Linked DNA regions of Homo sapiens. The protein of the gene in region 1 purifies or fractionates together with the protein of each later gene. This does not show direct contact. Each region holds a gene or a part of one and is shown on either strand. Other genes may lie near its edges.

Region 1 (8,215 bases):
ATTGACTTGAGCAGCAATTTCTGTAATTAAGTGTTGCCATTCTCTTAAGTATGATGGGGTTTTGGAAAGCACTTTGCAAAGGTGGAAGCCATTCCAGTGCTCCTGGTGTTTTACTTCTTTTTTGTTTTGCCCAAAGCCAAGGTTTCCAGCTCAGAGGTGGTGCTGAAGGTCCACAGTGGGTGTCCCTTTCCTCCATTTCCAGAGTCCATGACCAAAGCCTGGGGGCAGACTTGTGAGAGGCGGAAACCCCCATTGCTGCTGCAGTAGGGCCCAGGCTAGTGGGGACTCAGCTTGGGGGTGTCTGAAAACACAAATGTCTACTCCAGAGGTCAAAGGGCAACATTTAAATTCAGGGAGAAAAGGAGAAATGGGGAAGGAAGCCTATAGATTGAAAGAGCCTTAAAAGACATTTCAATCAATTGCAATGTGTGAACTTTACTTATATCCTGATTCTGAAAGTATAAACTGTAAAAAGGTATTATGAATGTATGAGACAGTTGGAAATTTGAACTCTAATAATATTTTATGACCATAAGATTACTGTTAACTTTTTTATGTGTGATAATAGTATTGTGGTTATGTCTATAAAAGGGTCCTTATCTCTTAGCGATACAAACTGAAATACAGACGAAATGACAGGATATCTTGGATTTGTTTCAAAATGAGATAGGGTGGGGCCTGTGGTGACTGCAGAAGCAGCAGAATTGGCTGTGGATTGTGGCCACAGAACTGGACAGTCATGGGGCTTCATTATACCACTGTCTACTCTATGACTCTTTAAGTTTCCCCACTGCAGAATGATTCTTTAAAATTACTGTTTGGGCTGGGCACAGTGGCTCATGGCTGTAATCCCAGCACTTTGGGAGGCCAAGGGGCACAGATCCTTTGAGTCCAGGAGTTCGAGACCAGCCAGGGCAACATGGCGAAACCCTGTCTCTACAAACAAAACAAAACAAAACAAAAAGCAAAAATTAGCTGGATGTGGTGGCACACACCTATAATCCCAGTTACTCAGGAGGTTGAGATGGGAGGATGGCTGGAGCCCAGGAGGTAGAGGCTGTGGTGAGCTGAGATTGCACCACTGCACTCCAGCCTGGGTGACAGAGTGAGAGACCCTGTCTCAAAAATAAATAAATAAATGAAATACAAATAAAAATTACTGTTGTCACAAAAAGATGGTGGGTAGGCTCTAAAAGGACAACGTCCCCCTAGGAAAAAGTTAATTGCCTTGAAAAATCTCTCCATACTTGTATGCCCAAGGAGAAAGGTCAAGATTAGTGTGGTTTGTCCTTCACACTGTCTTGTGTTTGGTTATCTTCCCACTGAAGGCCCTGAGAGCAGGCCTTGGGCTCTCAGCCTTTAGCAAGAAATAGTATCCTGCGGTAATTTGAAGGCATTCTTTTGTTTCGCTGTATTTATTTTATGGCTACTTCTATTATATTTTGCAAACTGATAATGGCTTTTTATTAACAGAAGAGACAAAGTTTGCTTCTTAAGTAAATATATGTAAACACTTTGATTTAAAGACAGGAAATAACAGCACAAGTGGCACTCAGATAGATATTATTTTTTAAAATGTTTTAGGGTGGTAGAAAGTAACAGAAGTTTGGGAGACCCTGATGTGGGTCAGGAGACATTTTCCTATCTGGTTTTAGTTATCAGGTGGGTAACCGGCTCACTCAAATCTGTGGTCTCTTCCAGCCCAGAGGGTCTCTGTGCCAGGACAGAAGGCTGTGCTCAGGCCATTGTCCATGGCTGGCTCCCTGCATCTCAGATAAACACTGACACCCAAAGAAGGGGCCCAATGCCAGGGAGTGGAAACAGCCCACAGAGAAGGTGGGGGTGGCCCCTACACATGGACCCCTGGCTTGGCCCCAAATACCATCTCATACCAGGTTTGTAGGCAAGTGAAATGGGGTCTGGGGGCAAGTTTAAGGACAACGTAAAGGGATAAAATCTCAGATGGAAAATGTTTTACCCATCATTTTGTTGCCTTTTTTTTTTTGAGATGGAGTTTCTTGTTGCACATGCTGTAGTGCAGTGGCTTGATCCCAGCTCACTGCAACCTCCACCTCCCAGGTTCAAGTGATTCTCCTGCCTCAGCCTCCCCAGTAGCTGGGATTACAGATGCATGCCACCATGTCTGGCGACTTTTTGTATTTTTAGTAGAGATAGGGTTTTGCCATGTTGGCCAGGCTGGTCTCAAACTCCTGACCTCAGGTGATCTGCCCACCTTGGCCTCCCAAAGTGCTGGGATTACAGGTGACAGCCACCGCACCCGGCCCATTTTGTTGTCTTCCATGGATTGTTTTCTGCTGGGAAAATTTCCTGATTGCCTTAAATCACCTGAAACGTAGTTGTTTAGCAAGCTGTGTCCACTCAGATGTGTTTTGCTGGGCCTGTTTGTATGATTCTTTTTTTGAGATAATTGTAGATTACATGCAGTTGTAACAAATAACAAGAGAGATGCTATAATATGTGCCCTTTACCCCGTTTCCACTAGTAGACATCTTGCAAAACTATGGGATAATATCACAACCAGGAAATGGACATTGATACAGTCAAGCCACCAAGCACTTCCATCCCAGGGACTCCTCATGTTGACCTTTTATAGCCACATCACTTCCTATGCCACGCCGCCCCTGACCCCACAATCACTCACCTGCTCTATACTTCTATAATTTTGCCAACTCAATAATCTTGTATAAAAGCAAGTTTACAGTATGTAACCTTTTGTGCTTTTGTAGTGTTTGTTTTCCAGTCCGTATAATTCCCTGGAGCTTCATCCAAGATGGATGTATTAGCAGTTCATTTCTTTTTTTGCTGAATAATATTCCATGGCATAGATGTGCCACAGTATTTAATCATCACCCATGAAGGACCTCTGTGCTGTTTCCAGTTTGGGCCTATTTGATAAAGCTGCTATGAATGTTTTATGTACAGGTGATTGTGGGAACATCACTTTTCATTTCTCTAGGATATATGTCCAAGAGTGAGATTTACCTGCCTCGCAAGACATATGTATATGTATGTATATGTGCCATATTTCATATATACATATGTGTGTGCATGTATGTGTATGTGTGTGCATGTGTGCCATGTTTTATATATATATATGCTTGTTTATGCATAAAATTTCTCTGGATGTATACTCAAGTGGGAAACACTCATTGCCTGTAGGGAAGGGTATTGGGTGATGGGGAGGGAGAGGAATCACTTTCACTTGGAACCCTTTTGAGCCTAAGTTTCAACCATCTGTCTGGATTACCTGTTGGAAAACAAATCAATCTTGTGCAACCCAGAAGACACCCACAGACTTCCTCACAAATACCCTCTGAGGCTGCCTTTTCCGCGCAAGTCTGTTTTTTGTTTCTTCAAAGGGAGCCCGTTGGAATTCCCCTCCCAGAGCACCTGGTTCCACACAGGGCCGACCCTCACCCCCTTAGTTCTGGTTATCTCCAGAGATTTCCCCCAACACACACATTCCCTGGTCTAGGGCCCTCAGGCTTCGAGGGTGACCCCAAACACCCCGCATCACCATCCAAAAGCCCCATGATCCCTGAGGGGCAGGCTCAGCCTATGCGGGCCTCGCTGAAGCCCAGTGCGGTGTCTATGCCCAACCCAGGGGCCGCCGCCTCCAAAAAGCCTTCCTAGCCTTACTGACATTTATCCTCTCCTTCCTGGTCACCCAGTGGCATCGTTGTGTGTCTTCCTGGTTACAGTCAGCATCCACTTCCTGCACTCCTCAGACAGCCGGCCAGTGCACCCTCACCCCACCCTTTCCTGACCTCCCGCTAGGCTGGGCCTTCTCTGCAAGGCTAGATTCATATTTTAGCGGCACCAAGCAGTCAGGTGCCTGCTGACGCATGCCTTCATGCAATTCACGACAGACAGCTAAAAGCCACAGAGCACAGCGCGGAATCTAAGGCCTTCCATTGGTGTGCAGGTGGATTCCGCGGTGCTAAACTTTCTTTTGTGGGTGTGGGGGCCGTGGAGGGGGTTGTGCTCTGGCAGCGTTGGCGCCCTAAATGACCTATAGGTAACCTCTAATGGCTTCCGCAGGGGGTGCAGTGCGGAGGACAAGAGCTTGGGGCTCTCTGGCTGAGTGATCTGGGGGCCATTCAACCGGTTTTTTCCTGGAGAAATGGGAATCTTAAGGCCTCTCTGGAAAGGGTGTGAGGGGGTCGAGGGGGAGCGGGCCCCGGGCCTTCAGCGCTTCAGCAGGTGGCTTCCCTTTGCGAGCCCGGGGTCCCTCTTCTGGGAAGCATGGGCTGGGACAAGGCAGGCGCCGGTTTTCTGCATCCCAAATGTCCTGGGGCATGTGTCCCTTCCTTGCTGACCGTGGGTCCGGGCCAGAGCGCAAGGTCCAAAGCCGGCGGCTTGGCTCCACCGCCAGGGGCAAATACCAGGGCGGGATGCGTGCTGCGGGGCGCCCCGGGGGCTCCCCCTTGGGACTTCTAGGGTCCAGGGGTCCCCGCGGGCGCGCCCCAAGCCTTCTCCCTCAGCTCCGGGGGCCCGGGCGCGCGCCCATCCCCCAGCCCCGCGTCCCTGCGCGAGGGCCGGGCTGGGGGTGGGGTCGCCGCGAGCTCGGCCCCCAGAGTTCCCGCGCTCAGGCCCAGGAAGCGGCGGCCGCCGACGGCCCTCGCCCCGCCCCCGCGCTCATCACCTGCTGGCCTGGCGCGCGCGCGGGCGGGAGCGGAGGGCAACGGGGCGGCGCGGGCGGCCGGGCGCAGGGTCGCGGGAGGTGACGCGCGGCGAGGATGGCGGCGCGGGGCCGGGGGCTGCTGCTGCTGACGCTGTCGGTGCTGTTGGCGGCGGGCCCCTCCGCCGCTGCGGCCAAGCTCAACATCCCCAAAGTGCTGCTGCCCTTCACGCGGGCCACGCGCGTTAACTTCACGCTGGAGGCCTCGGAGGGCTGCTACCGCTGGTGAGGCGCGCGGCCGGGCCGGGCGGGCGCCGTGGGCCGGGCTGGGCCTTCGCGCTGAGAGGCTGGGCGGGCGCCGGGAGGCCGGCAGAGCCGGCAGGTGCGCGGCGCGCTCTCGCTGGGCGCTAGGCTGCAGCACTCGGAGCGGCGGGTGCGCGTGGGTCGCCACCACTGCTCATGTCATGGCGCCGTCCGGGCCTCCGCGCCGCTGAGGCGCGAGCAGAGCGGGCGCAGCCTGGCGGCCGTGACCCGCGTGTTCTGGGTTGTGCGGGAGGAGGGGTGGCCTGGGGAGCGGCGTCTGGGACCGCAGGGCCCAAGCCGGCCGGGCCCGAGCCGGCCTGACCCGGGAGGGGGCGCCGGGGCAGCTGGGCCGCACTTCCCTTGAGTCTGGGACCCCAGCTCGGGTTTGTCTGTGACCGCCCTCGCCCTGGCGTGGGAAGTGAGTCTGTGAAACGAAGCGCAGCGCCTAGCGTCGCGGGGAGGAACGGAGACCCTGGAGGAAAGGAGTTTTGGAGGGAAGCCCAGGGGCCGCTTTACAGAGGCGAAGTGAGACGAGGCAGGCCGGCGCTTCCCCTCAGGCTGCCTCGGCGCGGGTCCTGATGCTCAGGGCATTTCCATCACCCTCCCTCTCGGGTTGGGAGTTCTCCAAGGGGTCGGATGCGGAGTGTGACCCTGTGGAACCACAGGGACCCATGAAACCAGAGACCGACACTGACAGGGCGGTGCAGTCCAGCCCTTCCATTTTGCAGACCAGGGGAAATGGAGCTCCTGCCCCTGGCAAGGCTGCGTGGGCACGACTGAGCGCCCTTAGCTTCCCAGCCCAGCCGTCCTAGGGGTGAAAAGATGGGCTTCCGCCCTTCCCACCCCCAGGATGCTCAGTAGTTGCTCCCTTTATTTCTGTTTCAAGACTGGGTCAAGGTTGAGGCAGAACGGGGTGTGACCACGTGACAGCCATGTGTGTAAGCCTGGACATGTGTGTGTCAAGCCTGTTTGAGTATTAGTCTGTGCGTGTATGTAAGTGTGATGCCCGAAGCTCAGACCAGCCAGCTTTCTCTGTTGCTTGCACTATTTGCCCTATTTCTTTCTTTCTTTTTTTTTTTTTTTTTTTTTTTTTGAGACGGAGTTTTGCTTTGTCGTCCATGCTGACGTGCAGTGGTGCGATTTCGGCTCACTGCAACCTCCACCTCCCGGGTTCAAGCGATTCTCCCGCCTCGTAGCTGGGATTACAGGTGCAGGCCACCTGGCTAATTTTGTTTGTTTGTTTGTTTGTTTTTAGAGTGCACTCCAGCCCTTGTTGCCCAGGCTGGAGTGCAATGGCGCGATCTCTGTCCACTGCAACTTCCGCCTCCCCGGTTCAAGCGATTCTCCTGCCTCAGCCTCCCGAGTAGCTGGGATTACAGGCGCCCGCCACAACACCCAGCTAGTTTTTTGCATTTTAGTAGAGACGGGGTTTCACTATGTTGGCCAGGCTGGTCTCAAACTCTGGATTCACTGTGTTGGCCAGGCTGGTCTTGAACTCCTCAAGACCAAGGAGAACTCCTCAAGCGATCCACCTGCCTCAGCTTCCCAAAATGCTGAGATTACAGGCGTGAGCCACCATGCCTGGCTTGTCTGGCCAATTTTTGTATTTTTAGTAAAGATGGGGTTTCACTATGTTGGTCAGGCTGGTCTCGAACTCCTGACCTCAAGTGATCCCGCCGCCTCTGCCTCCCAAAGTGCTGGGATTACAGGCGTGAGCCACTGCACCCGGCCTGCCCTATTTCTTTTTTGAAGGTCTCCTTCCTGAAATCAAGACGTACTAGGTCAGCCCATTGCATTTTGGTTTTAGTGCTTTATGCACCTGGAGGCTCCTATTTCTGGCCTGATGCCAGAGGCTGAACTTGGGCATTAGGTTTTCTGTATCCCAGTCTAAGGCCTAGTCTTGTGTGGGAAAATCAGCTGTTAGTCAATACTGTGGCGGGGATACATGCTCATTCTCTTGTTGAAGCTGTCTGTCCTCTCAGTATGTGGGCAAGAAAGAGGAAACTGGTTATTAAAAACAGCTGGCTTCAAGTGAATCCCTTTGGATATATTTGTGTGTTACTTTCTCTGAGATTCTATAGCTGTACTTTTTTCTTTTTCTAAACTAACAACACTTTTTTCCCCCCCAACATCATTTTCTTTTCTGAGAGGAGCTGAAGGGTGTTGGTGGATTTTAATTTACTTGGTAGGAAAAAGGGAAAAAACATTCTTAATCTCTGATGCATCAGAGAAGTGCTAAGTACCTTATAACGTGTTTGGCGTTGATCTGTAGTTTGTATTGCAGATGTGTGACTGCAGATGTGTGACTGCTATTCAAAGTGTCTTCTCAGAGGTGTTTGGAAATTGTGATTCCCCCTTAACTTGACAGGAAGACATTCTGTCAATCAAGCATTGAGAATATTTTCTTTATTTTTAGTATTGCTGTTCCTAGTGTAGTCGTCTATTGCTGCAGTTTTGAAGAATCTGCTCTGGAGATTTTAAGAGCTGGCCTATAGACATATATCCACAGTCCTCTAAACCTGGGAGGAACATTACCTCTTCATCCAGAAAGTTCATTGTTAAGTCTCTCAGACGAAAAAGAAAATGAGAATTCTGCCAGACCCTGTGGGAACATTTGCACATCCATTGAATTTGCAGCTGAGCTCTAAGTTTACAGAAATCACTGTGTGTGCCTGAGCCAACAGCTTCATGTTTACTTTTCCTATTTTTTTTATTTTATAACATCAAAATTGGACAGTTTTCGGGCCAGGGGAACCTTAGAGGTCACCTAGTTTAAACAGCCTGTGTTTCATATAGGAAAACCTGAGCTCCAGAAGGGGAAGTGATCTCTGGGAAGTCTTGTAGCGATGGACACTGAGTTGGAGCAGGAGCTGCTGGGACCCCTCCCTGTCCCACGCCATTAGACCTGGGGACTGGCAGCCTCTGGCTAATTTGCCAGGCTCTAATTCTCTCCAACTGCACCCAGCCAGCACTGGTTTTGTGACAAGTTCCTGATTCCTTCTAGATATTTTGCATTATTGAAAGTGTTCCATAAAGTATATTACATTTGCTCCTTTTAAAGGTATATACAAAACGACCTCATATCAAAAACTGGGAGAACAGACGAAAAAGAAATCATGCCATAATCTTCCAGCTGTAATACAATCACAGGCAGCATTTTGGTTTCTTTTCGGTCACTTATGTTTCCTCTCCTAGCTCCTTTCTTACATTGCCTTGAACCTGGTTATTTGGGCACCTCGGGAACCTCCTCCCCTGCCAACACTGGCTAGC
Region 2 (7,364 bases), on another chromosome or scaffold:
AAACTAATTGGTTAAATAATTGAAAACTAATTGGAATCTCTTCAAGAAACACAATAAGGCCGGGCGCTGTGGCTCACGCCTGTAATCCCAGCACTTTGGGAGGCCAAGGCGGGCAGATCACCAGGTCAGGAGATCGAGACTGAGACCATCCTGACTAACATGGTGAAACCCCGTCTCTACTAAAAATACAAAAAATTAGCCGGGCGTGGTGGCAGGCGCCTGTAGTCCCAGCTACTTGGGAGGCTGAGGCAGGAGAATGGTGTGAACCTGGGAGGCAGAGCTTGCAGTGAGCCGAGACTACACCACTGCACTCCAGCCTGGGCAACAGAGTGAGACTCTGTCTCCAAAAAAAAAAAAAAGAAACACAATAATGGAACATAGAGGCAGGACAAGGATTATTTTTGAAGAATGTATCAAAGAAATCTGACATTTAAATAACAAAAGCCCCTCCAGGCTAAATAGTTCCTTTGTACTCATTTTGTTATAGCCCAAATGAAAATATTTTAAAGCTTTATGAAAATCACCATAAATTACTTTCTCTATAACTTCTCTTGCATGGTTCTAAAATGTTCATAATGCTATAATTTACTTAATTTTATATGAAGATATAAAAAATAAATACTGCCATGCATTTTGTTGACATTTTAAAAACCCACAAATAAATAACTTAAAATGCTGTTTAGAGAAATTGCTCCTACATACTATTATGGAAGATTCAAGCAACAAGTCTAAGTTTTTATAGCATCCTCAAATTGAAAAAGCTTCAAAATAACCGAATTTATTATTATTTTAGAAATAGAGATGGGGTCTCGTGCCATGTTGCCCAGGCTGGACTCGAACTCCTGGGTTCAAGTGATTCTCCCACCTTGGCGTCCCAATGTGTTGGTATTACAGGCATGAGCAGCCACCACACCTGACCAAAACAAGCCAATTTAATGCCCTTAAATGATCAAAATGTAATATTAAGGAAAAGAAAACAACACAAGCCAAAATTGGAGTGCAAACGCCTTTTTCACCATAGGTTTTAATTGAAAAAGGGACTAAAGGGAGTCTTTTCCAAGGGCATGCTGGAAACGCAGAAAATGAAATGATAGAAACTTCCCATGTTTCTATCCTTCCTCTGGCATTGTCTTATCCTATTTGTTTCCTGAAACATTCCCTGTTAAGACTCTTGTGATTCAAGGTCAGGAGATCGAGACCATCCTGGCTAACACGGTGAAACCCCGTCTCTACTAAAAATACAAAAAATTAGCTGGGCGTGGTGACGGGCGCCTGTTGTCCCAGTTGCTCTGGAGGCTGAGGCAGGAGAATGCCATGAACCCGGGAGGCGGATCTTGCAGTGAGCCGAGATCAGGCCACTGTACTCCAGCCTAGGCAACAGAGCGAGACTCTGTCTCAAAAAAAAAAAAAAAAAAAAAAAAATAGACTCCTGTGATTAAAAAGACAAAAGCAAGTATTTATGAAAGTCCATCAGATTCCTCAGTAAAGCTGAAGTCACACACTAGAGACAGGTGGTCTGAAGGATAATTGAAGGAAGGTAACCTGTTGGGTCCAATCTGTTCTTCAGTGAGCAGATCGAGAGCTGACCTTACATTTAGAGCATGTTTAGAATACCAGATGTAATCCAGGGTGTGCCTGCACTCCCCTGAGGTCCGGATCTTCCAGGTAGTGTATGGGGGTTCTGACTGCCCATCAGCACTCAGCAGCTTGTAGGCGCTGTTCAGGTTGAGGCTGGAGGAAGCAAAGTGTTTGTAGACCTCTTCTGTTGGCTCTGCATTGAAGTCCCCACACACAATAAGGGGAATCTTGGCTCCTTGGGTGATGTTTTGCAGGTTCTGAAGGAGGTCACAGCCTTGAGCTGATCGAAACCGCTCCCAGCCAGTGCGTGCTTTTAGATGGGTAACAGCGATGCAGAACTGTCGGCCTGACTCCTTGCACTCCAGGGTCTGTGCAATGGCCACCTGGTTGGTTTTCAATGTCATGGCTGTCAGCCTAATATTGGCACTGTTGACTAGCTTGAATCGGTTTTGAAGAAAAAATAAGGCACAACCATCTGGTCCATTGTTGTGTTCTACATCTAGACAAGGTGACCAGGGTTTGGGGAAAAACGTGCCTTGATAGCCTAGTCTACTGAGGAGTGGCTGGAAGGTGTCAAAATAGTGGTCCACCTCTTGGAGGCACAATATATCAGGCTGGTAGGCCAGGATTTCTTCCAGGATGAGACATTTCCTTTCTTCCCATTTGAGTGCTTCAACAGGGCACTGTACAAAGTTGTCTTTGCCTTCTCCAAGAGCTGAAAAGAAAAAGCTAGTCAGTTGTCAGCTCTTACAAAACCGTGACTTCAAAGTACCCAGGAGGTTTGGCATCACTCAAGACCCTCAGAATGCTTCCTCTGCTTTAAATGCTTGGAGTGGCTCTCTGTCCAAACTGTATTACCCCATCCAAACTAAATCACCTCTCACTATGTGGATGAAGCAAACAACAGATCTTTTGTTTCGAAATGATTTCATGTTAACTATATTCCAGGATATTAAGATCTTACTTAAGGAAACTGCTTTGCAGTGCCAGGGATCTAAGCTATATAAAATGAAATAAATGCCAATTTTCTTTTAAAATTTTTTTGGTTTTTTTAAACACCAAATATTTAACACCAAGTATTAGTTTTAACCCTGACTATTATGGACACTACTCAGAATGAATGGAACTTATTTTAAATAGGCAGCTTTTCCTACTTAGGGAAAAAGAATCAAAGATTGGTAAGTCACGGAATCTCCCCTTATTTTCCAGGAAAAAAAAAAATCAGGCCCTTGTTTTTCTTAAAATCTCAACTGCTTACATAAAAGGCAATGCTACATAGAGTTGATTGACACATCTGTTTTTTAATTTGGCAGACCCAGGAAAGAAGTCCTTACTACTGTAACAAAGTGTATATATATATATATATATATATACATATTTTTTTGAGACAGTGTCTCACTCTGTTGCCCAGGCTGGAGTGCAGTGGCTCAATCTCAGCTCACTGCAACCTCGATCTTGTTGCCCAGGCTGCAGTGCAATGGCGCAATCTCAGCTCACTGCAACCACCACTTTCTGGGTTCAAGCGATTCTCCTGCCTCAGCCTCCCGAGTAGCTGGGATTACAGGCATGCGCCACCACACCCGGCTAATTTTGTATTTTTAGTAGAAACGGGGTTTCTCCATGTTGGTCAGGCTGGTCTCGAACTCCTGACCACAGGTGATCCACCCACCTCGGCCTCCCAAAGTGCTGGGATTACAGGTGTGAGCCACTGCACCTGACTTGGTTTTTACAATTAAAGCAAGTAACTCGTGGTTTATTCTTTACACCTTCCATGTTTGTAGACTATCCAAGAACAATTAAAGTGTCTTTTTTCTTTCTAAAAAAAAAAAAAAAGTGAAAACCAGATGATTCCCTGTCTTAACCTCTTCTAGGAGCTCTCCATGCTGCTGCAGTCACCTCCATCTGCCCACACCTCTTCCTTCCACATAAAACAGTGCACTGTGGATGTGCAGAAGCAGAAAGGCAGTCACAGCAAACTTGACTGCAGAGGCACAAAAGCATCCAGCATACCTTGGGCGAGGATGTTCCATTGCATAACCCTGATAGGTGGGTGGGTACTAGGGCAATCTGTCCTCAGATCCACAAAATCCCTCTGGAACCGGGGAGGTCGGGTGTGCAGGACGGCCCTGCATTCCTCAAGAAGCTCTTTAGGATCAATGGGCTCCAGATGCTCTGGGTCAGGTGACACCAAATACTCTGGGTGCTGGGAGGCAGCGCTGCTGTTCAGTGTCTTGGCGAGAGCACTATAGAGTCTGCTTGTACCGGTTCCCATGGAACACACTACGGAAAAGGAAATCACAGTTACACACTCAGCTCCTTTTCCTGACTTCTCGCCCAGCACAACTGTAAGATAAACATTTACTGTCCACCGAAACCAGGAGCTCAATTGTTGCCATAATAGTGTATAAAGCCATTTCTTTTTTCTTTTTTTTTTTTTTTGAGATGGAGTTTCGCTCTTGTTGCCCAGGCTGGAGTGCAATGGCACAATCTCGGCTCACCGCAACCTCCACCCCCAGGTTCAAGCAATTCTCCTGCCTCAGCCTCCCAAGTAGCTGGGATTACAGGCATGCACCTCTACCCGCTGCTAATTTTGTATTTTCAGTAGAGATGGGGTTTCCCCATGTTGGTCAGGCTAGTCTGGAACTCCCGACCTCAGGTGATCTGCCCGCCTCGGCCTCCCAAAGTGCTGGGATTACAAGCATGAGCCACCACGCCCGGCGTATAAAGCCATTTCTACAGAGGCAGAATAAAGGAGTTTCCAGGTTCCAGCTTTCTACTAGGACAGTTAATTTAAGTACTACCGTTAAAACTAGCCTCTGATTAACAATGAAAACTCATCCTTTTAAGGAAGAAATACTTTGATCTTGATGGCCTCTTCTAACCTAGGATTTGTCTTTGTAATTTATAAAACCAGTCTTAAAAAAAGAGCAAGGCTTAACAAAATCTACATTCCTTTTTCTATATATCTTAAGAACCTCAAGACTAGGCTGGGCATGGTGGCTCACACCTGTAATCCCAGTACTTTGGGAGGCTGAGGCAGGTGGATCACTTGAGGTCAGGAGTTCGAGACCAGCCTGGCCAACATGGAGAAACCCTGCCTCTACCAAAAACATAAAAAATTAGCCGGGTGTGGTGGTGTGCGCCTGTAATCCCAGCTACTCAGGAGGCTGAGGCAGGCGAATTGCTTGAACCAGGGAGATGGTGGTTGCAGTGAGCTGAGGTGACTCTATTGAGCTCCAGCCTGGGTGACACAGCGAGACTCAAAAAAAAAAAAAAAAAAAAGATCTTAAAGACTAGTTTGTAAAAAGTGAAATGTTAGAAAGCCCATGTTAATGTTAATCCTGGGTGAGAGATTAGGTAATAGCAGGCTGCTTGCTACGCTGGTCATCTCATCTATACAGATCCCTCTGTTGGGGAAAGTAATGGCTAGATTCTTTCCCATTTCTCCTAGATGTTAAGTGTAAATCAAGGCTTGGGCTTTCTGTAGTAGAACTCTGAACTTCACTGAGTGGTATACTCTATAATCTTGTATCAATTGCTGGATTTCTTAAAATCCAGAAAAGGGGCTGAGGCCAGAAGGGCTTAGAGTAAGCTGATTTTGTTCAGCTAACTTCCATCCAGGGCACTACCTTCTCATGAGTTGCCCACATTTCCTGGGATCCTAGAAAGACAAAGAACAAGGAAAAATGCAGGAAGCACCAGTTACTTTGTCTTCCCGAGTTAATTTTTAGTGTTTTGCTTTTTATAATTCATTAAGGAGAACAGAGCATAATCTTCAACTAATTAGCATTATGTGGCAGTTCACTTGAAAGCAGTTGATTGCTCTTTTAGAGGTCAACTATGTTTTATTTTCATTATAGTATAAATTAGGGGCACATTTTACTGGGAGTAACATCCAAGATTCTCTGTATGATAAATGCTGGTACCAGGCAATCTGGATTTCCCTCTCTTGAGAGATACAAAGTTTTCTTTATAAAACATAAACATTTTATAAATGTAAACATTATATAAAGTTTTCTTTATAAAATTTGGCAGGCTTATCAATCACATCTCAAACTAGCAGTCAATCAAATTCACTGTGGCAGGTTACAAAGGAAATTCAATTATTTACCACCAAATGTCCTTGAACATTAAGGTCAATGAGGATGCAAGCATGCTTTTTTTGTTCCTTCCTGTCTACTCAAAGTAGTTTTTCCCTCCAGTAAGAAAGCTAGACTACAGCAAATGAACACATACTAATTTTCCCAACAAACATAGCAGGTGTGTGTGCATCTGCAAGCAAGCATGCTCTCCCACAAATACACACATATACAACTGTTTCCAAACTGATTTCAATAATTTCATTTTAATTGATAAATACATGAGTACATGGGTCCAAAGGAAGAAATTTTCTTCATGGCTGGCAGTACAAGTTTTGAAAGTCTTTCTTCTTGTACTTTTTTTTTTTACTTCCTGTAGGTTTTTTGGGGAAAACAAACAAAAAACAGCCAAACATCCAAGTGTGGTCTCCTGATCAGCAATATCAGCATCACCTGGGATTGTGATCCCCAAATTGTGAGCTAACGTGTCCCAGGGAACCACAGCAAACTCACAGGGACACCATGGTATATTTTATATTTTAAATGTGAAATAAACAGTGACGTTTGACACCTGTCAGGCTCTGGGCTTGATGTAGAGCTCAGTTTCAATAGGACTGCCCTACATTCCTTTTGATGACATTTTATCTTTGCCAAGCTGAGTTTTAGGGTGGTTATATGAAAAAACTACCATGCAAAAATGAATGTGCAGAAGGAAGGATGTCCAATGGGAGTCAAACGTTTGAGGAGTACGTGAAATCAGAAAAGCAATCCTGAACCACACTTCCTTCTAAAAATTTAGAAAAATCAATTTCACATGAAGAGAATAAAGAATAGAACAATATCAGACAGTGAAAGCATGCCAGAAATGTGCCCAGGAAGCAAATCAAACTGCATCCTATTGCAGAGTGAGCTAAGTCTTTAAGAAAATGATACAAGGCTGGGCGCGGTGTCTCAAGCCTGTAATCCCAGCACTTTGGGAGGCCGAGGCGGGCGCATCATGAGGTCAGAAGATCGAGACCATCTTGGCTAACACAGTGAAACCCCGTCTCTACTAAAAAATACAAAAAAAAAAAAATTAGCTGGGCATGGTGGCGGGCGCCTGTAGTCCCAGCTGCTTCGGAGGCTGAGGCAGGAGGCTCCCGGGAGGCGGAGCTTGCAGTGAGCCGAGATCGCGCCACTGCACTCCAGCCTGGGCGACAGACCGAGACTCCGTCTCAAAAAAAAAAAAAAAAGAAAATGATACAAGAGGCCGGACGCGGTGGCTCATGCCTGTAATCCCAGCACTTTGGGAGGCTGAGGCGGGCGGATCACCTGAGGTCAGGAGTTCAACATCAGCCTGGCCTACGTAGCAAAGCCCCGTCTCTACTAAAAAGGCAAAAATTAGCCAGGCATGGTGTTGGGCGCCTGTAATCCCAGCTACTCGCGAGGGTGAGGCAGGAGAATCGCTTGAACTCGGGAGGAGGAGGTTGCAGGAAGCCGAGATGGCGCCATTCCACTCCAGCCTGGCAATAGAGCGATACTCCATCTCAAAACAAAACAAAACAAAAAGATACAAGACATGAAAGAATAACCTAAATCAGAATTAGAAAATTCAGAAATTAGACACCAAAAAGAATTAGCAATAAAAATTAAAAAGAAATGAGAAAAAGATCAGAGTCAAACCTAAGGATTGCTTTTTTTAAAAAAAAATAAAAGGGAGAAAGTGAC

Evidence for each region.
Region 2: the proteins of NUP210 (region 1) and NOCT purify together in Homo sapiens (affinity purification with mass spectrometry; 2 studies listed by BioGRID and IntAct, with this or other methods). This does not show direct contact.

Annotation. Positions count from the first base shown.
Region 1 is NC_000003.12:13,416,772-13,424,986, reverse strand, and holds the start of NUP210 (nuclear pore membrane glycoprotein 210 precursor), read left to right. Parts: upstream 1-4,664; 5' UTR 4,665-4,760; coding exon 4,761-4,927; intron 4,928-8,215. UniProt on the Homo sapiens protein: Nucleoporin essential for nuclear pore assembly and fusion, nuclear pore spacing, as well as structural integrity.
Region 2 is NC_000004.12:139,039,568-139,046,931, reverse strand, and holds the end of NOCT (nocturnin), read right to left. Parts: intron 3,859-7,364; coding exon 3,589-3,858; intron 2,294-3,588; coding exon 1,458-2,293; 3' UTR 993-1,457; downstream 1-992. UniProt on the Homo sapiens protein: Phosphatase which catalyzes the conversion of NADP(+) to NAD(+) and of NADPH to NADH. Shows a small preference for NADPH over NADP(+). Represses translation and promotes degradation of target mRNA molecules.